Linked DNA regions of Homo sapiens: region 1 is linked to region 2. The links come from fine-mapping of genetic effects on plasma protein levels. Region 2 holds a variant in brackets. A gene starts in the other region. All regions are shown on their forward strands.

Region 1 (10,986 bases), not on the chromosome of region 2:
TTTTGTATAATAAGCATATATATTAATTTTATAATTTAAGAAACTTAAAAATAAGTTAACAAGCATTTCCCAGGGCCACCAAATTTTCAATAAACAGTGTTTTTAATAGTAGCATTATATTGCATTACCTGGATCATTTTTGTAACTATTTATCTATGAACTGACATTTCCACTGCTTCTGACTTCTCACTGTTAGAGCTGCAATATAAATCTCTGTGCATGCATATTGTGTGTGTTTGTGTATGTGCATGCATATATCAAGACAGCATATATAGGACATATGCTTTGAGGTTTTCCCTTTAGCAGAGATGATTTTGCATGTCTTCAGAACAGTTAGCTTGGGCATGGACACACATAATGATGCTCAGTGGCTCACTAAGGGAAGGACCATGACCTTAGCGTCATCATCTGACAATAAGCCTGAAACACTGGACCAGATCTGGTGCCCTAGGCCATCTGTTACATAATCACTTTGGCACCAATTGAATATCAAAAGGGCTTGGGACAAATTCATCAGCACAAGGAAATATTAGAAAGTAGTAGATTTGGGTTTGTAATTTTTTTAAGTCACATCTTTCTTTGTCTAAGTTTCATGGACAATATTCAATTCTTCATAAATATGAAAGGCTTTCCATAAGAGATGGTCTTCTGAGAGTTACAAGCTTTCCCCATGAGGTCATCATTAACAGGCTATAAGGGAAGTTTCTCTCTAAGACAGGAAGATTTTTTTGTATAAATTTAAGGGGTACAGGTGCAGTTTTGTTACATGGATATATCGCATAAAGTGTGGACTTTAAGTGTAACCATCACCCAAATAATGTACATTGTACTTATTGAGTAATATTTCATCCCTAAGCCCAGCTAATTGTGAGCTGAGCTGAGAATGCATGGATGCTTCTGTCACATCCACTTAAATCAAGGAAGGCTTCTGGAAGAGGAGGATTCTGAGATGAACTATATTCAAGTGGAAGAAGAAGGAAGCAATTTGAGGGATACAAGAGTAGAGGCTGATCCAAGCTTCCTTGCTGAGATCATGCCCCACTAAACTTCCTTTTGTGTCCCAATCATACTAGATATCACCATACACCGCTCATGCTCAAAAGCATAATCAAAAACACTATTAAACACTGTTTCTCCCAGGAAGAAGACTACACTTACTATGAAAATTGTAGTGGGACAGAAACACACTTAAGGATGGAATAGGCTTGGCACTGTTCTCCTTGTCAGCAAGCCTTCTGCCTGATCTATTTAACTTATGTGATAAAAGAGATAAAGGTTTAAGTGAAGGGCTTCAGATGCTGCTTCAGTTCCTACCAAGAATATTTTCACAGCTCCTTCTCATGAATAAGTTCAGTGAAGCAGAGAATGCCCCTCTTGGACCAATTCCATTTTGTGCTTTTTTTGATGCTGTCAAAAAGGGGAACTAGAGCTTAGGCTTTTCCTTCAAATTTAGAGCAAGCATCTACCTCAGAGATGGCTGCAAGTGGCCCAAAGAAGGTAAGACCCACATTGTGCAAAGGCAGCAAGAACGGATATGTCGACCGTTACTCATAAATCTCCTAAACGTGGCAGCAAGGAGGGTTAATTATCCCCCCCGCCCCCACTTCCTGCCACTCTCTGCTTTCTCCAATGTGTTAGCCCATTACACGGATCGCTGACTTTCTAGAAATATTCCCTGGCTTTGCGGGGATGTTCTTTTCAATAAATGGCATCCAATTTGCTAACGGTCCCTGGAATCTCAATTTCCTCAAAACATTTTTCATCTGAGCCCAGTTCATAGGAAGGTTTCGTCCTTCCTCGTTTTTCGGCATAAGGGAATAGGCAGAGCCTGCTTTTCTTTTTCTTTTTTTTTCTTTTCTGTGTCATTATTTTTCATAAACTGAAAGCCTTTGCTGAAGAGTCTGAAATTTGGGAAAATTCCAGCTCATCTGTCAGATATTTCTAGAGTTACGTAAAATGTAATGAGATTTGTATAGTTTAGAACAGGGAAGAGAAAATAAGCTAATGTGTCATATGTTCTATGAGACAAAGACTACATGATAATCAGAAAAACAGCCCCAAATTTAGTTGGCCTGATTCAAAGCTCTCATTCTTTTATCAATTCATGCATAAACCAGTAACATTCACTTTCTTCTCTTAGAATAATGGCACGGCCACATTTGGGCTAAATCATAATTGCTACAGATTATAGCCACATTTTCAAAGAAATTATAAAAAGTGTATTATTTTCCAAATGCAAGACACTTACGTTTTACTTGCTCTGTTTTGCCTCCTTCTAGCAAAAGAAAGAACAACAACGAAAAGATGTATTTCATGCCTCCCATTTTCCACTTTTTTCTCATTTGGACCACTGCAAAAGGTGACAGAACCTTCAAGCTGTTGGGAAGAAAGCAGAAAAAAGACTTAACACAGATCTTCTGGAAATGATAGAGGTCACTGATGCTCAGGCTTCTAACCTGCTAGAATAAAAAAAAAATGTCCTAGAATTTACATAAGTGTAAGTATTGTCTGCCTGCACAAGATAAAGGACTTGCCTCTCCTGTCTTGCAAGGCTTGTGGGTGAAAATTCAAGTGAATGAGGGTGCATTCCTATCCAAAGCTGAGGCTAAGTCCTTACAGGCAAGTTATAGGAAAATGAAAATAAATTTTGAAATCTTCCTTTCTAAGGGAATTAAAGTTGATTTCTCAAGAGATTTTTTTGGGAGAAAAGGGAAACTTTAGCTTGCAAAAACGGTTATTTTAGCAAACAAGGTAAAAGTAACAAGCATGAGACCAAGCAATTTCTGAAATGAAAGTTAACTAATCTTAGCTTCAAGACTACTTTTAATCCTTTTGGAATGAAGTACAAATTGATCAGTTTCTCCTGTGTCCTCTATGAGATCTACAAGGATCTTTGGTTTGGCAACTAATATTGCAAAAGATAGATGTAATTAGCAAATGGATGCAATTAAACACCTGAAAAGTTTTACTGCTTAAAATGGTTCCAACATATTCCTCCCCCAAGAAGTCCATTGTAAAATGGAAATTTTAAATGGGCCATTTTTAGGGGAAATTGGGCAAATTAAATAGATAATTTGTTCACCTTGCACCACCATGCAAAAGACCATTAAAACAACTACAGTTCTTCAAAACATGAGATTGGCATTCCCAGTATAAGGGGTAGAAATCTTAAACCTTTTGAACCTTGGAACACAGAAAGTTTGCTGTAGCTCACATCTAGTCACGGATCATTTCCACAGATGTTAGAGTTTGCAAAATTCCTCCAATGGGTGATCTGAAAATATTGAAATGTTCTAAAAACACCAGATTCAATCTGAATGGGAAATGAACTCATTGATCTTTCCAGAAAGTCCAACCTAAATATTGCACATAAAGAACTTGAAGGAATGCAAAACGATCATTTTGGAGAGTTGAATATCTTTGGGCTCTGAAGTAGATGCTACAGCTCCTACTTAAATGCTATGAAGTTGCCTGGGTCATTCAAAATCCACTGTTTCAATTATGAATGCATAACCAAGGAAGAACTGATGATAGAGTAATCTGTGCTATCAAACAAGATTTGCAGCACCGTCTGCCTTCCTTCTTTACCTCCTCCCTGCTCCTTAAAGAACCAAATTCTCTCAGGACATGTTCCTACCCATCTAAAGACCTGAGTTCTGATGTCTTGGTCCCCTCTGTGAGTTTGTGGCCCACTTACAATCACTCAGAATGTTACTGTCCCTTGAGGGCTACCACGTTTATTCGAAACAAATCATTTTCATTAACAATTTAACACAGCTACCCACCTCAGTGAGGTTCTTCCTGAGCCTATTCTAATAAGTTTATTCCCCAAGCCTCCAAAAGAGAAAGATTTTTAACCACTGAAATCCAATTTATCACATTCATATATGGATTTCAACGGGTGTTTCTGAAACCATGGTTTTAGGGTCTCCCCATGCGAGAATCAACAGGGCTGCTTTTCTTGTATAATGGTTGGGCGATTCGGTGAACTGTAGCATTGCTTCATAACTCAAGTTGGCAAGAAAACAGCTCATAGATTTTTTTGCCTTTCTTAGGTCCCAACTAATATTATGAGCAAATAAAAAAGTTGGTAACTAGAGAGCAATTAATCTCCTTTGGCGTTCCTGTCATCTGTGTGGCCTCCCAGGCTGTGATGGAGAACATCAGAAAATGAATCGCTTTATAAATATTCACTTTTGATTTACAAGATCCTGAAGTCCTGCCTTTGTATTCTGTGCAGAAATATGAACCAAGAAGAGTTCCCTCCCCAGATCTCCTCACTGTTCAATTTCTCTTTATCTCTTCAGCTTTTTCTTTTAGGGAAGGGGGTGGTTCAAAACATGTGTTGGGACTGCAGCAGTAAACACTAGCAAGCATTGCTCAGCGAACTTAGCCGACTCTTATTCTTGCAAAGAGCCAAACTGTCCTTAATTTTTCAAATTATACTTTGACCCAGTTAACTGGAGTTATTTCTGCATTAACTCTCTGTCTGCTTCACACAGGCTGTTGTGCCATTGAACTTGCACTGGCTCTTTTACAGGTTACTTAGACATGTAGCCATTGACATGCTTCAGGGGATCCAGGACCCAACAAGAAAGCAACAACAACAACAAAAAAACAAAACCCTGCAACTAACACAGGTAGTGGAGGTGGGATGGGAGAGTTCCTGTGTTTTACAAGAGAAAGAGAAATGTATCAAGTACCAAAAGAAAGGTATTTATTAAGGTGCTTCCATGAAACAAGCATTCACATTGTTCATCTGCGTTAAGCAAAGGGACCAACTGCTCCTTGCCCAGCTGTGACTGCAAGGCAATCTGGGCCATCAAGTGTCAGGAGCCCACTTTCAGAACAGGTCTCCTGGGTAGAACAGAAGCAAAGAGACATCCCCACAGGAAGGCTAAGGGATGAACACATGTCAGCCAGTTCTTCACGCCCCACAGTGTCTCTTTAATCCTCCTGAGAGGCTTGACTGACCTTGTAATCTCACATTGACTATCATCTGTGGGACAGCCCCTAGGGTAGCAATTTTCTTTCCGACAAACAATAAGAAAGACACTGGAGTCCCAGGCCCTTGTCCATCAGCTGAAATCCTCTCCCCACTCTACCACCCAGCAAGAAAAGTTCAGTTAACTGGTGGTGTGTTGCCACTGAAAATGGCAGTTTTAACCCAGGGTATCTCTTGTTGGAGGAAATGCTTTCATTGCTGCTTATGACTGACAAACAATGCCTCGCATTTGGCTTGCAAAACACCTTTCTATCATTTCATTTCATTCCACACAACTCCACCTTCAAAATGGGCACTGGGGGGACCCAGAGAACTCAAATAACTTTAGTGGCAGGGCTGGGAGGGACTGGAAAGCAGGCTTTCCGGGCCCTATGTTCTGGCAATATACCACGTTGCTTCCAGAGCCTAGTGTCTCAAATTCTGACCCCCGTAGTCAGGGACAAAAAATGAGGCAGATGGCCAGAGGATAGGATAGGGAGCCTTTCGCCCATCTACCCTGCTACATTAACTTTACCATGTATTCATCAGCAAAATGAGAAAACAGGCTCAGGAATACAGGCAGTGATTAAGGGGACTGCAGAGTCCCTTGGGTAGCTCAGGGTGGAGTACCTAAGTGACCTCTCAAAGCGCCAGAGCATAAAGAAATGCAGGCCGAGTGGGGAGGGACGAGCTGTGAGTTCGAATTCAGAGACCCCCAACTTGCTTTGGTCAGAAGCCTTGGGCCCCACCTCCATCCAGGTTGCTAACTGCTGGAGCACAGAACAGGTTGGGGTGGCAGGGGAATTTGGGGCACCCTGGGGAAACTTCCAGGGACGGCTCCGGCCAAGAGAAGGCAACCCACCTGTGCAAAGGCTGGAAAAGGAGGTGAGGGAAGCGGGCGCCGGGCACTGCTCACTAACCTGGGCACTGGCCTTCTCCGTCTGCCACGCGTGCACGCGCTCCGAGCTCCCCGGGGCGCTCTCGTCCGAGGTCTGGGGCTGGCAGGTTGTGGCGAGAGCTAGAGTGCGCGCGAGGGGGGAGGGGGAACTCAAAAGTGGGTGGGAGGAAAAACATCACCGCCCTCACACCACGAGGGAGCAGCGGCTTGCTCGGCTCCCGGGGGCAGAGCCAAGGCGCGGGCGCGGCGGCCCGGGGCCACCTGCCCGCCCTCCCGCTCGCTCCCCACTTGGCCCGAGAAGCCGGCCGCTCGGCGCTGGCGGGAAGTCCGCAAGCACGCAGCCGCTGCAAGCACGCACACTTTCTCCACCCCGGCACAATGGCTTTATTTCTGCTCCCCCGGCCCGAAAGTTTAAAAATCGGGAGAAAGTGTGAGACTCAGCCGGCTACTTTCCCATCACACAGCGCCCCCACTGCAGCCCCCACTCCTTTGGCTAGGCGAGCGTTGGGGTCTTAAAGGGACCGCACAGCTCCTCCGGTCCCTCCTCCCCCTCTGCACTGGATGCACCTAGGAGCTCCCCACCACTCGCGCACGCCCTGAAGATACCGACTACCCTCTGACTCCCCTGCCTGGAAGCCCACACCCGCTCTCCTCCGGCACCAAGGCCTTTCCGAGGTGTGCACCTGGTCTGGTACTGAGCTGGTGCCCTGGACACAGAATGAACCCTCCTCGCAAATCACGCCCTAGCATGCTGCTTATCATTTCACGGCGTTTCCCATATCCACACTGTGGCTAACAGAGTGACAAAGCTTTGGTTTGGTGTCCTTAAAGGCGGGGTGGAGATGGGTGTGTGTAGGGTCAGGGATTAGAAATCCACTTTCTCTTACAAACTGGGCTCCCAAGCCTCATGGAAAGGGCCTGTTCTAACTGTTAAGTGTCTTGAAGAAAACTTGGTGCCACACACTATACCCACCATTTTTTTTTTAAATGAGTCCCTAAGCTTCTAAGTTGGGCCAAGAGCTCAACCTGGAAATCACAGTAGCACTGCTGATGCCTTGGTGGGCCTGCCTACTCCAAATTTGTGTTTATTCAACAAGTGATAGTTGCAAAGAATTGTCAGAAACTTCTAGGGTCCAGGAAAGTGCTGCCTCGACAGACAAAATTTTAAGCCCCTAAATTTGGAGAAGAACCGCAGAGCTTTTTTCTAGATGAACTAGATAAATATCTATATTCCTAACATCTGTATAGTACTTTATGGCTTACGGAGTGTTTTCACATACATCAACATTACTTTTTAAACCCTCAAAACCAACCGAACTACCTGAGGTCTCAAGTGTTAGAGTTGGTGGGGAACTTCTGAACCATTCAGCTTAACTTCATCATTTCACAGAAGAGGAAACTGAATTGGGGGAAGAGGATGATGTATCTAAGGTCACACAGCTAGTAAATGACAAATTTGAGATTCCAATCCAGATTCCCTGACTTTCAACCCACTACTCTCTGGTTGTTATCTCCAGTCTGTAGATGAGGAAATTGATGTTCAGAGAAACTGTGGCTTGTCAAAAAAACAAACAAACAAACAAACAAACCACTTATCAGGAACAGAAAACAAAGAAAAATTAAAACAAGAATAATTGTCCCTGAACGTTACCTCCTTTTGCTTTTTCAGAAGTGTTAATAGTATCCAGCTAGCCCCTGCATTGCTGGTGATGTTTATTTCACTGTTAACAAAGGAAAGGGGGCCCTTTCTGTAATGTTGCCTTCAGGGCCCAAAATGTCTAGCTCCGTCCTGCTGCCTGGGTAGCCATACACTGCCACATGCATTCAATTTGTGCTGTTGTATATCGGTTTGAACTTGCTGATTTGTTGCCTTATAACTGTTCTCATGCCGTTTAATGCAGTGATGTTTTGTCTTACTAGATTGTGAGTTCTTCAAGGGCAAGGACTGGTTGTTCAATTTCTCTTGTGCGTGCATTACCCAACTCCCATCATTACTTCCAACATGCTTACAGAGTATTCTGGAAAATGAGTTTCAAGGGATAGTCTGAGACAAACATAAATTCTAGCATTTAAAATAAATAGACTCACTGGGATTTAAAAGTTCATCTATTTGGCTACAACCACTCACTCCCTTGCTTGGTGTAGAATCCTAATTACTGCATAACAAACCATCCGAAAACCTAGTGGCTTAAAGCAAGCAATTATTCTCAATTGGTTCTATTGAGTTGATTCTATTGAACTTGCTTAAGATCTCTTATGCAGTTGCAGGCAACTGTATATGGGGCTGCTGGAATTCTCTGACAGGTTTTTCATTAGTGTAAATGTTAGTCATCCTTGTATTTTGTATTAGTTCCAATCTTGATTTCTGAATTGAGAACTCCCATTTGGGTGAGTCCTAATCTAGACATCCTACCAGGTCTTATAGAAACTTAAGTGATGATTACCTTCATGCTTTATTTTCTCTGTTTATTAAATAGGGATGAGAGCATAATCTCATACTCATTTTTTAAAAAGTTTTATTTTAAGATAATGGTAGATTTACATGCAGTTGTAAGAAATAATTCAGAAAGATCTCAAATACCCTTCACCTAGTTTTCCCCAATGATAACATCATTCATAAATATAGTACAATGTCACAACAGGACACTGACATTGGTACAATCCATTCATCTTACTCTGATTTCACCAGTTTTATATGCACTCATTTGCCTGTGTATATAATTCTATGCAATTTTATCGCATGTGTATATTCATGTGACCACCACCACAGTAAAAATATAAAACAGCGCCATTACCACAAGGATACCCTGTATTACACTTTAATAGTCACACCCATCTTTTCCCTTCCTCCTCTCCCTACTCCCTGTCAACTACTAAACTAAATTGTCCTACATCTCTATAATTTTGTCATTTAAGAATGTTACGTGGAATCATACGGTATGCAACCTTTTGAGATAGTCTCTTCTCTCTTCTCCCCCAACCCTGATATAATTCTCTGGAGACCCATTCAAGTTGTTCCTGGTATCAATAGTTTGTTCCTTTTCATTGCTGAGTGGTATTCCATGGTAGGGATATATCACAATTTGTTTAAACCATTCATCTATTGGAGGGTTGAGTCTAGATTTCGGTTACAACTGCTATGAACATTTGTCTACAGGTATTTGAATAAGCGTAAGTGTTCATTTCTCTGGGATAAATACCCAACAATGTAGTTCCTGGGTTGTATGGTAAATGCATGTTTAGTTTTGTAAGGACTGTCATACTGTTTTTAGAGCAACTGTACTATTTTATATTCCCACCAGAAATGTGTGAGAGATCCAGTTTATCTGCATTCTTGCCAGCATTTTTTGTTGTCATTATTTTTTATTTTAGCCATTCTGGTAGGTATATAGTGATATCTCATTGTGGTTTTAACTTGCATTTCCCTAAAACCTAATGATATCTACCATCTTTTCATTGTTTATTTGACACCTGTATATCTTATCACAAATATTTTATCCCAGTCTGTAGCTTTTCTTTTCATCCTCTTCCCTTGAACTTCCACAAAACAAAATTTTTTAATGTTTTATGTCCAATGTATCAAATTTCTGTCATATAGGTCATGTTTTGGCATTAAGTTTAAGAACCCTTTACCTAGCTCTAGATCCTGAATATTTTCTTCTATATTTTTGTTTTAAAAGTGTTATAAAGTTTTACATTTAATTATGATCTATTTTGAGTTAATTTTTATAAAAGGTATAAGGTTTAGGTTGATGTTCATATTTTGCCTATATATTTTTGTCCAATTGCTCCAGTATCATTTGTTGAAAAAGCTATCTTTCTTTCATTGAATTGCTTTTACACCTTGATCAAACATTGGTTGGTCATATTGTGTGAATCTATTTCTGGCTTCTCTATTTGATCCCATTGATCTATGTGTCTATGCCTCCACCAGTACCACGCAGTCTCGATTACTGTAGACATATGGTAGGCCTGAATTTCAAGTAGAGTGGGTCCTCCCACTTTATTCCTCTTTTTTAGGGTTGTTTTAGCTACTCTAGGTCTTGTACCTTTCCACATAAACTTTAGAATAAACTTGTCTATGTCTACAAAATATCTTACTGGAATTTAGCTAGAAATTGCATTAAACCTATTGATCAATTTGGGGACAATTGACAAATTTAATTTGTTGAGCATTCCAATCCATGAACACAGTATCTCTCCATTTATTTAGGTCTTCTTTGATTTCATTCACCAGTGTTTTGTAGTTTTCAGCATATGACTTCTATACATATTTTGTTAGACTCGTATCTACATATTTCTTTTTCTTTGGAGCAATTGCAAATGTTATTGTATTTTTAATTTCAGTTTCCATGCACTCATTGCTAGTATATATGAATGCAAGTAGTTGTTGTGTGCTGATCTTCTATGCCATGTGTTGCAGAACTCATACTTATTTAAAAAATAAATATGTAAGTGGAGGTATTATGAAATGATTATATACAAAATAATTTTCTGATAGCACAAACTTTTTGCCTTTTAGTGCTTCTTGTCCCACTGGGACTTAGAAAACTCAGGTTATTAAATTAACTTTCAAAAATGGCAGAATACATAAAGATTGATGAGTATATTGTACTATAGGTTTACCTCTTTTTAGAAAAGATGCCACCAACTTAGAGTTTGTATTAATCAGATACTTGATTCAATATATAGAAGTTGACAATTCTCTGTAAAGACCCCTTAGGATTATTCAGCTATATTCTAATGAGCCCTTTTGTTATTTGTGTATGTTCTTGTTTGTTACTGAAATTTTTCTCTGTTGTATTTTCTTCCTGCTAGCCATTTCTAAAAACTGCTAGAAAAAAGAGTAATGTCCATCAATGATAGACTGGGTTGAGAAAATGTGGCACATTTACACCATGGAATACTATGCAGCCATAAAAAATGATGAGCTCATGTCCTTTGTAGGGACATGGATGAAGCTGGAAACCATCATTCTCAGCAAACTATAGCAAGGACAAAAAACCAAACAACGTATGTTCTCACTCATAGGTGGGAATTGAACAATGAGAACATTTGGACACAGGAAGGGGAACATCACACACGGGGGCCTGTTGTGGGGTGT
Region 2 (10,986 bases):
GTCTCCAAGTTCCGGGTGATCGGGGCTAGGGGAAAATAATGGGGGTGGGGGGATGGAAGTTAAGGGGAGGAGGGGGGATGGATGAGGAGGGCAGCCTGGATGGAGGTGTGTGGGCAGGGGGCAGATGGATGTGGAGTGCCAGCTCCAGGGTAGATCAGGGCAAGGTTCTGCAGTGTGGGTCAGGATCCAGGGCCTCCGGAGCCTCCTGGAGTCTGGGCCTCACCTTGGAGTTTTCCTGACTTTTTGGACCTTGAGCCTCCTTTAAGCTGCAGGAGACCCAGACACGGCGCACTGTCCAGGGTGACCCGTTCCTGTTGGAGTTGGGTAGTGGTGGGAAGGGCTGCCCTGGGTACCCTTGGCCTTGCAGGGAACTCTGGGCTCTGGGAAACATAATTTCAGCCTGGCCTTGCAGTGTGCCACCGGGGTGCTCACATGGTTTCAGGCTGGTGAGGGGCTTAGGAGGTTGGCAGGATGGGCAGATGCAGCTTTCCTGGGCAGCGAATCCGATCATCTACCAGAGCTGGAGAGCCCTGTGACCTGAAAATGGCAGGCCCATGGGGTCCTGATGGCAGTGGGGGTGAGAGGGACCCTTGCCTTGGGCAAGGCTGAAGGCAGCAGCCTGGACTTTGCCCCTGAAACTCTGAGAAGCCCCAAGGCCGCAGGTGGGTGTGGACTCTGCTGCTGTCACTTGCCAGCTGCGAGTTTGAGGCCCTGTGTGCCTGTGGGGGTGGAATGAAGCGAGGCCAGTAGTGCTACAGTCTTCACATCACCCCCAACCCTCTCACAGCCCCAAGCACCTTCCCTGCACACTGGCCCAGCCCTCACGGGCTCCCACTGCCTCCTGGCTCTGCACACAGCAGGTCTGTGGTCATGTGTGGCCCTGCAGAGGGGACCCTTTTCCTCTCCCTGAGAGATAAAGAGCCCTGTGCCTGAAATGCCACCAGCAGTACTCATTCCTCTGGCTAATCCCAAACATTCACTGAATATTTGCTCTGGGTGCTTCGGGCAGGAGCCACTGCTCACTTCTGGCCTGGCCTGTTCCCCCAGGCCAAGTTTACATCTCTCCATTCCAGGCTTTGTGTGTAAGAGGCAGTCAGAGCCCTCGGGCCCTCCTGAAATGTGCATATGCACCACTAGCCCCGGCTGGGACATCCGCCCTCTGCTCCCTGATAAGGTCCCTCTCTGCCTGGACTGGGGACTGAGGATCCGAGATGGAAAAGCCCCAGCCCAGCGCCCCTGCCTTCCTGGAGTCAGAGAGGCCTGGGTTCTGCTTGTGGTGCGGCCTTCACCAATCACCCCCTCCTCAGGGCCTCCATCTCCCTGCTGGTGTGGAGTGAGGGATGAATTCACAGCAGGGCTTGCCAGGCTTTTTTTTTTTTTTTTTTTTTTAACTGTAGAAGCTTTCCTTCCAACAAAATCTTGCGAGGAGCTCAGTGTCTGAAATTGAAAAGCTGGGAGCATCTTCTTGATTGTGTTTTTTGGGGGCGAGTCCCTGGGCTTTGTTTTCTCTCCCCCTTCACTCCACCTCTCTCTCAGGTCCTGGGGCACCTGGAGGGGAGTTCCAGGGACCTGGCTGGGAAAGAGCTGTCCTCAGTGCCCATGGGACCAGTCCATGGGATGTGTCTGTACATCTGTGTATCGGGCCCTGAGGCCCACCTTTAGCCCACCTCCCCTCCCGAGGTCTCCTTCTGCCAATCACCTGCCTAATGCCCCTGCACCCTGGTGTCAGGCAGCCCCCCAGAGCTGCATCCCTCCCTCCTGTAGTTAACCAATGCTCTATGAGCCTCTCTCAGCCAAGACCTTGGCATCAGCTCACCACTGCCCCGCCCCTGGCCCTCCCCTTCATCACGGGCCGTCTCTCAGGCTTGGCGCCCTGGGATGCTCCCTTGCTCCAGCTCTGTGACTGTCCCCATGAGGGTCCTCCCTCAGTGCAGCCCCATCTCTCCAGCGGTGCTGGCACGATGGACCCGGTTGACTCCCTGCCTCCTGCCCTCTCCGTTCAGTCTAAACTGCACAGTCTAACGTAGGAACCACTAGAGCATGCAGCTATTAAAATTCAAATTAAATTAAGCTGGGTATGGTGGTGTGAGACTTGTCCCAACTACTCACGAGGCTGAGATGGGAGGATTGCTTGAGTCCAGGAATTCACATACAGCCTGGGTAACATAGGTCTCGTCTCTAAAAAACAAAAACAAAAACATTATGGAATGAGCCTCTGGGGATGAGGAGCTGATGTCCTGAATGGACCAGTGACCAGTGCAGGAGGGGTGGAGTCCTAGCAGGGGTAGATCCCAGCTTTGGGAACCAACTTTCCCAGGCACTTGCCGGCCACTCCGTGGGAAAGTCCTCAGGCAGCCTGCAGGGAGCTGGGATCAGCTGATGGGGATGGGTTTGGAGGGGAGAGAGTGGTGCACAGGGACTGGAGGTGGGGGAGGGGTGGGGTTGCCATGGAAAGGGCTCTTGGGATGGGTCTTGGGCTGAGCCTTTGGCAAGGCCTCCACCCTGGAGCTGAGCCAGCAGAGAGTGGGGCTGACTCCATGAGGCCCAGACTCTCGTGGGTATTCTGGTGGCCTGGGCACCCTGTCTTTCCTGAACCCTGCCTGCCTAATCTAAGAACTGCTCCCCTTGTAGCTCTGTCTCTCCTCTGTTGGCCTAGTTTCTTCATCCATGGGTGGGCACAGCAGAAGCTGTCTCACCTGCTCCATGGTGAACGGGATTTGCAAGGATTTGACTCTGGCCATCCAGGGAAGATGGAGTCTTTGACCAGGCCTGGCCCCTGAAGCAGACTTCTTCCTTCTGAGCCTGCTGGGGAAGCAGAATTCCTCGATGCTGGGTGTCATGGTCTACCAGGCCCTCCCTCGCCCAGGCCACTTGTGTTGAGCCTGGAGCAGAACCCCCAGATCTGTAGTCCGCCTGTCAGCTTGGGGAGTCTCCGTTTCCGTCTGTTTCATTCCCATCAGCTGTGTGTGGCTGAGCAAGTCACTTAACCTCTTGAGGCCTCCATGTCCTCATCTGCAAAATGGAGACACACATATCTGCGTCCCCGATGACCACCAGTAGCTGGGATGATACGTCGACTGCAGAGTGACCACTTTGTGTAGGCGTCCCTGTGGATGGTTGTCAGTCAAAGGAGTGAGTCAGATGATGAGAGGGGAGGACAGCAGAGCAGCAGTTGTTTCTTCAGTCTCGCCGGGACTCCAGGATCGGCCATGTTCTGCAGCCACCGCCTCTACCTGTCTCCCCATGTGGGATCCTGAAACCTCAAGCTGCATTTAGTTTCAGAGTCCGGGGAGGTGCTCACTGTCTTCTGACTCCTGAGATGCCGACTCCCTCTGCCATACCCCAGGGAAGGAACCAGTAGCAGAAGCTCCAGGGAAACTGATGAAGGTCAACAGAAGGAAGAACTTCTAGCAGCCCAAAGGGATTGGAATGGGCGGCCCGTGGGAGTGGACATGCAGAGGCACTGGCCTGGGGTGAAGCCTTGGACCAAATTCTTACTTGCAGGCCCTCTGGACCCAGGAGAGGAGTCTGCAGGCCTCGGCTGGGCCGGATTCCGCAGATTCTGGCCTAGGTCCTGAATGCCTGGTGAGTTACTGAGAAAGGCCCTACAGGCTGAGGGTGCCAGTCAGGGTGAAGCAGCCCCGCAATTGGCCCACCTCCTTTTGTACCTTAACAAAGGTGTCTTTGTTACCTTTCTTAAAGGAAATAAAGCCGGTCAGGAGCAAGGCCTGGCATATTCAGGGGGTCATCTGTATTTGGTCGTCCAGCGGGAAACCCAAATGGAAGGAAAGAAAAAAAAAAAAAACCATGCATTTATAGAACCTCTGCCAATGGCCAGGCTCCATGCAGAATGCTTTGACACCGTGGCTCAGCCAGGTCTCCCACAGGACTGCAAAACAGAGGGTGACATCTTTCTTTTAGATCGGAGAAGACTGAGGACCAGAGAAGCTAAGTAACTTGCCAAAGGGCACACAGCAAGTAAGTCATGGCACTGGGATTCAAACCAAATCCTCCAGACTTCCAGTAACAGTGGAGCCGGCGTGTCCTGAGCATCTGTTGTGTGCTTAGGCATGGTCCCTAGCTTTTTGCGGGGATTAACTCACTCAACTCTCACAACAACCCTGTGAGACAGAAACGGTTATACCTCCGTATCGTGGAGGGGGAAACTGAGGCACGGGGAGGCAGAGTGACTTGCCAAGGCCACAAGCAGTGTTCGGATCTGGCCATTGTGGCCACTGGCCTACCTTGTGCCCCAGGAGCTGCTGTACATGGCAGGGATTGCTGCAAAGATGTGCCTCCTGCCTTCTTTTTGGAGGTGGCAGAGCCCTTAGGTCACATGGGGCAGGACCAGGCCGGGTGGAAGGTGAGCACAGGGAGACGGGCTTCAGCGCGAAGCCCTTTCGTACAGTTGAACTAACTCCTGGAGAGGTAGTGCGGGTCCACCCCAAGGTGTACCAGGGCTGGGGGCAGTGGATGGGCTACTTCCTGCCCAGAAGTAGAGACTGAGGTTGTTTCTGGCATCCTCCAAAATGCCCCTCATGGACATT[A/C]CAGGGATGCCCTGAGTGCCCACTGGGTGTTGGGCCTGCTTTACTGCTGGACATGTGACAGCTGGCCCCTTCTCCCAGTTGGAGGAGTGCCCAGTGGCTGTCCCCCAGCTGAAGACGCCAGACATCAGGTGTTGAGGGGCAGGCGGAGAAGGGGCCAGAGGGTGGTGGACAGGGGAACCGGCTGTTAAGACATGAGCCGTCTGAACCACGGAGGTGGGTGGCAGGGGCCAGGGTGAGGCCAGCCAAGGGCACCCTGGGGACTGAGCTAGGACTCTGGCCAGCACGGGCAAGCTCAGGACCACGGAGAGCTCCACAGGAGCCGCCCTTCACCAAGCGACAGCTGTCAGTGTGAGTCTGCACCTGGGAGGCTGCTACCTGCCTGGCCAGCTCCCACCATCACAGCCAGTGGCCTCCAGAGAGCACCTCCCTTCTCCCTGGCCAGAAGCCCCTGGCTGGGCTCCACCTGAGTCCTGACTATGAGGTCATGGCTGGGTCATGGAGTTTGGGCTCATCAGCTTCCCTCCCTCACAGCCCGTCAGGCTTCCAAGCAGAGCTAGAGAAAAATGGCACAAGAAGTGGGAAGAGGGAGGGAAAGAAGGAAATCTGTCCAGCTCAGACCCTCCAGGCCATGGCCACTGCCTGAGGCCTGCCTGCTGCCATCCTGGGTCAGCCTCAGCCTCCCTCTTCCAGGATCACCTGGCTGCCAGGAAGCACCTGGCCCATGCTCTACCACCTATCCCAACAGACCCAGGACCGGCCAGAGGCGGTGGCCCACGCTTGCAATCCCAACACTGGGGGGCCGAGGTATCACTTGAGCCCAGGAGGTCGAGACCAGCTTGGCAATGTAGGGAGACCTCCTCTCTACAAAAAAATGTTTAAAAAATCAGCCGAGTGGTGGCACACACCTGTAGTCCCAGCTACTTAGGAGGCTGAGGTGGGAGGATCACTTGAACCCAGGAGTTTGTGGCTGCAGTGAACCTTGACCACCCCACTGTACTCCAGCCTGCCTGGGTAACAAAGAAAGACAAAACCCTGTCTAAAAAAATTTAAAAAGTCACAGGCCCCTGGGGCTGGGCACAACTTACGGGGTGTCTGGCAGCGGGGTGGGGGTGGAGCCTCAAGCCCCCCTTTTCTTGGAGTCTCAGGAGGCGTGGCTTCCCAGCCCCTGGCCCCTCCCCACAGCAGGTTTAGGTTTTGCTCCCTGTTGCCCTGAGATAGGACAGCACCCACCTAGGCTTAGGCCCTGCCAGGGACTCACCTCCAAGCCTCTGCTTCTGGTGTGTCCCCACCCAAAGGCTCACTCTTTCTCTTCTCTGCCAGGCTGGGGAATAATAATAGAAGAGCTAGCACTTATCATTGAGTGCTTACTGTGTGCTAGGCATCTCATCGATGGGAAAACAGAGGTACAGAAAAGTGCTTAACCTGCACAAGGCCACACAGATAGGAGTGGCAGAGCTGGGATTTGAACTGGGGAGTCCGAGCACATGGAAGTGATGGTGAGGGCATTGTGGAGGCCCAGGGCAGTGCGGGGTGATCTCATTGAGCACCTGCTGTGTACATTCCCTGCTCTAGGGAGCTTATATGCCAGCTGGGAAGACAGACATCTAGGGGAAAATGAGCCTAGTGTTGACTGGGGCTGGGGCCGTGCATAGTTCTCTCTGATTCTTACTTGAAATAAGCAGGGCAGAGATAATGATACCCATTTTATACATGGAGGAGTTGAGGCTGAGAGAGGTCAGGTGACCTGCTCTGTTCATAGTGACTATAGGAACATTGATGATGATGAGGAGCTGGGGGAGGTTGGGAGAGTTCGGGATGGGCTCTGGCTTGGGGCAGAGGCAGGTGCTTTGGCTCCAGGGAGGCTATCTTGGCACAGAGCAGGCATCTGAGAAATACTAGGTGAATTTTAACGAACTGAGTAAGAGCCAGAGTATGGCATTTGTGCTAACAGAGATTAGCCTTGGTGGTGGGAAGGAGCTGGAGAGGGGTTTTGTCCTCAGAGAGCTGCCTGCCTGGGTCACAGAGGGCGCCCAGCCCAGGGAAGGCCCTAAGCCCTCGCTCAGTTAACCTTATTCCCCAGGTAGGTCCTAACCACAGTGACCCTCCTGGCTTCCTGAGCTGCTGGAGGACCTCAAGCCACGTACATCCAGGGAAGTAGGTGGGAGTGGGACAGTGGGCTGGACGATGTCCCCCACAGTGCTTTGAGGCCACAGGGGGACCACAGACAAAGCATATCCCACCCCGCCCATCCCTCAGGTGAAGCTTCTAGACAGCATGCTGCAGAGAGGACCTGAGGTTTGGATCTAGAGACAAAGGTTAGCCCAGGACCTGCTGCTAGCCAGTGTTTGACCTTGGCCATGTCCTTCACGCCCAGCCTCACTGTTGGTGTCTGCAGGAGGAGAAGTAGTGGTTAGGGCTAGGCCCTGCAGAGACAGATGCTGGCTGCAAGCCCCAGGTCTGCCAGATAGGGCCAGCCTCCTCCACCCCAGTCAAGGGCTGGTCCATTCTTCCAGTGCCTGGGGCCACCCAGTGTGCTGCCTTGCTCACATCCAGCTCTTCAGCAAATCCAGCAGAATCTGAGCACACTCTACACCCTACAACCTGGTGGAAGCCACCCTGACTCACCTGGGCAGTTCAGTGTGGCCTCCTGGCTTCCCCTGCCCTGCCCTTGAAGTGCCCATTCATTCTCAGCAGAGCAGCCAAAGTGAGCCATTCACACCAAGGTCAGGCCATGGCCTCCCTTCTCTGAATCCTCCAGTGAAAGCCACACTTCGAACCATGCCTCCAGGCCCTGTGATCTGGGTTTGTTCCCTGCCCCCCATGTCCCCTCACTTGCTCCGTCCCACCCGCCTTGCTGTTCTTCACTGGCGCACATACACTCCTGCCAGGGCACTGGTTGTGCCTTCTGCCTGGAACATTCTTCCCTGGCGCCCTCTCCTGCGTGGAGTCTGCTCACGTCGCCTCCTCGGTGAGCCTGCCCTGCCCACTCCATTCATCACTGGACATAATGACGCACTCGCTCCTGCCCGTTACCCGCTTTGTCTTTCTCCAGAGCACAGCCTCTTTGGGCGCGCAGTTTTCTGAGCTGACTAGTGTGTTTGTAGTTTACGCAGGCTCCCTACCCTGTTGGGTGCTGAGCAGGTTCCCTGAGGGCAGGGATTTTGGTCCGTCCTGTCTCCCCATGTTCCCAGTACCCACCGAGGTGCCTGGCACACGGGGCTCTGGCAAAATCGTTGCTGAGTGAATGAGTGACGTGGGTTGGGTGAGCACCCTGTGGCATGTTGTATGGATCAAATGCCCCAGGGCTGCACCATCCACTGGGTTGTCTTCACTGGTCACAGGTGGACTCCTCAGGGGCTCTGTCACTCTACTTGGGTTGAACTTGGCAGCTGGAAGGGGCTCAGGACAGCTTTACCACTGGATACAACCCCGTGATTGACCCTATAGGATCCAGTATGATCCTTCTATTGTGCAATGCTGTGCAAGCGACATCATCTCCCTGGCCTCGGTTTCCTTATACAAGGGTACCTGCTTCGTGTTGGGAGGATTCAGTACAGTCACGTGTGTAACAAGCTTAGGACAGTGTCTGGCATGTCAGCCTCAGTGATAGTTTTACTGTTACACCTGATGGTTTGTCAATGCTTTGTTATTTTTGCTTTTGAGATAAGAGTCTCACTCCCCTGCCCAGGCTGGAGTGCAGAATTGCGATCTCTCAGCTCACTGCAGCCTTGACCTGCAGGGCTCAAGCAGTCTTCCCACCTCAGCTTCCCAAGTAGCTAGAACTACAGGCACATAGTAGTTCTGCATGCCTGGCACTGCTAGAAAGTAGGCACTGCTAATTTTTTTTTTTTTTTTTTTTGTAGAGACGGGGTTTAGCCATGTTGCCCAAGCTGGTCTTGAACTCCCGGACTCAAGCAATCTGCCCACCTTGGCCTCCCAAAGTGCAGAGATTCCAGAGGCATGAGCCACTGTGCCCAGCTTTGATGAAGCTTTGTAATGGAAGCTGAAATGCCACCAACTGGGGCCCAGTTTGGTTCCATGGCTTTAGCCCACAGCTGGGCCACCTGCACTACAGAGGGATCTGGTGGTCTCAGCTGTCATGAGGGAGAGAGGCACTGGCTTGAGAACCAGAACTTACGTTCAAGTCCTGACTCAGCCACCTCCTTAATGATGTCCTTTGGGGAAAGTCTTGCCATCTTTCTGAGTCTCGTTTTCTCCATCTGTTAAAACAGGGCAGTTTAAATAACCTACCAGAGTGCCTGTGAGATTTAAATGAGACCCTGAGTGCCAGTGCTTATTTATTCCATTTTATTTATATGCTGTCTCAATAAAAAAATGAAAAGACAAAAAGGAATTGAGCTGAAAAGGATTGAAACTATGCGGGCAGCTGCAAGTGAAGGAGTCCAAGAAAATGCTGTCTGTGAGGTGCTGTTGACATGCTCTGGCTGACCACTGTGTGCTTCTGAGCCTCCTAGCAGCCTGAGTGATGAGGGAAACATGCCCAGATCCTTGATTCTCAGCAGCAACCCAGACTGAGGCCTTATTAAGGGGCCCTGTCCTGAAGGCTCCAGTGACTGAGAGGGGAGCTCCCAAGCACTGGTGAGTCCGTGCTCAGAAGGGCACAGCTGGCTATGAGTAACTAGATCCTGAAAGCCAGCCAAGGGGCAGCTGGGTCAATCTGACCTCAGCAGGTCCACGGAGGCCCTTTACGCCAAGCAGGCTGTTTCCTTGCCTCTCTGAGTTCCTCTTACCTTGCTTTGCTAAAGCCTTTGTTCATGCTGCCAGGGGATTTAGAGTCTGAATGGCAGCCCCAGGCCATGCCTGCCACATAGCTTACACCAGTTGTGTAACTTAGAGTGTCCCCCTCAGAGGCAGGTCCCAAGTACAGAAAAATAGCCCACTAAGGCTAGGCACAGTGGCCCACACCTGTAATCCCAGCACTCTGGGAGGCCAAGGCGGGCAGATCACCTGAGGTCAGGAGTTCGAGACGAGCCTGACCAACATGGTGAAACCCCACCTCTACTAAAGATACAAAATTAGCCGGTGTAGTGGTGCATGTCTGTAGTCCCAGCTACTCAGGAGGCTAAGGCGGGAGAATTGCTTGAGGCAGAGGTTGTGGTGAGCTGAGATCGCACCATTGCACTCCAGCCTGGGCAACAAGAGCAAAACTCCGTCTCAAAAAAATTAAAAAATTAAAAAAAAAAAGAAAAGAAAAATAGCCCACCAGAAGGATCCAGGCTGCCTTTCCAAGTCCTGAAACCCCAAGAGTAGGTTGCTCTGGAAGCTTCCGCCATGCTAACCCCGGCTGCAGTATTGCCTTGTGTCTGGTCCTGGCCACAGCACTCCTAGCCCCTTTTGCTCACCCAGCTGGTCCAGCCCAACTGGTCTCACTTTGCCAGACAAGGGCTGGAATCCAAAATGGAGAATGAAGTGCAGAAGACCCACTTCAAAATGTTATCAAGGAGCAGCCCCTCCTTCCAAACTCCAGTGGCGAACAGCCCCAGCTCTGCCCTGGGACATTTAGCAGAGGTCAGGCCCCTACCCCAGATTGTTCTACCTGCCCGCAGTCAGCTGTGCCCACTCCGTGTGGACAGCTCCAGGGGGGCAGGCGTTTACTGGAGGAGGGATATCTGAGCTCGAATGGGGCAAACGCTGCCCTGATTGTCGGGATCAGCAGCTCCACTGCTTCTTACCAGCCTGCTCAGGACTCCTCGCAAGCTGAGGTCATGAGGGGCACCTGGTGCAGGAGCCCAGCTGCCCGGTTCACACTCCAGCTCTGTTGTGACTTTGGGCAGGTCCCTGAAGGCCCCTAGGTCCTGGTTTCCTCCTCTATAAAATGAAAGAGTTGGAGGAGATGGTCCTTAAAATTTCTAGATCAATCGTGTTGTGATTCTGTGCCTTACGACCATGTGGCTTGTAGAAAATTAAACTGCGGGCATCCAGCCTTGAGCATTGAAGGGAACAAGAGCTTATTGAGCATGCTGCATGCCAGGAACTCTGTGCCCATTTCACAGATGGAGAAACTAAGGTTCAGAATGATTAGGAGCCTTGTTTTTTTTTGTTTGTTTGTTTGTTGTTTTTTGAGACGGAGTCTCACTCTGTTGCCCAGGTTGGAGTACAGTGGTGCGATCTCGGCTCACTGCAACCCCCACGTCCCTGGTTCAAGCGATTCTCCTGCCTCAGCCTCCCTAGTAGCTGGGATTACAGGTGCCCACCACCATGACTAGCTAATTTTTGTATTTTTAGTAGTGACAGGGTTTCACAATGTTGGCCAGGCTGGTCTCAAACTCCTGACCTCTGGTGATCCACCTGCCTCAGCTTCCCAAAGTGCTGGGATTACAGGCGTGAGCCACCACGCCTAACCCAAATTCCTATCTTTCCACCCTACCTTGCTGTCCTTAAAAAGTAGGGAGGCTGGCCATGGTGGTTCATGCCTGTA

Alleles and levels. Positions count from the first base shown, and alleles are read on the strand shown. Strength reflects both the effect of a copy and how common the allele is.
As copies of A replace C in region 2, the plasma level of the protein whose gene starts at base 5,978 in region 1 goes down (weak association).

What was found. PIP is the posterior inclusion probability: the model's chance that the variant is causal. The UK Biobank Pharma Proteomics Project read protein levels with antibody pairs (Olink). The fine-mapping took linkage between variants from a reference panel, not from the people measured, so its PIPs are less certain.
Region 1: it holds the start of CHRDL1, and the variant in region 2 is fine-mapped to the plasma level of the CHRDL1 protein (UK Biobank, PIP 0.98).

What each region holds. Positions count from the first base shown.
Region 1 is chrX:110,789,840-110,800,825 of GRCh38, forward strand. CHRDL1 (chordin like 1) reads right to left here and starts at 5,978. Exons shown (of 12, transcript NM_001143981.2): 1 at 5,905-5,978; 2 at 2,249-2,376. The coding sequence starts at 2,342.
Region 2 is chr22:39,473,762-39,484,747 of GRCh38, forward strand. The region is part of intron 1 of MGAT3 (beta-1,4-mannosyl-glycoprotein 4-beta-N-acetylglucosaminyltransferase); the gene reads left to right. MGAT3-AS1 (MGAT3 antisense RNA 1) reads right to left here and starts at 3,061. Exons shown (of 2, transcript NR_126469.1): 1 at 2,697-3,061; 2 at 2,046-2,178. RefSeq lists enhancers at 118-1,047, 4,685-5,186. The variant A/C (reference allele first, on the strand shown) is at 4,548.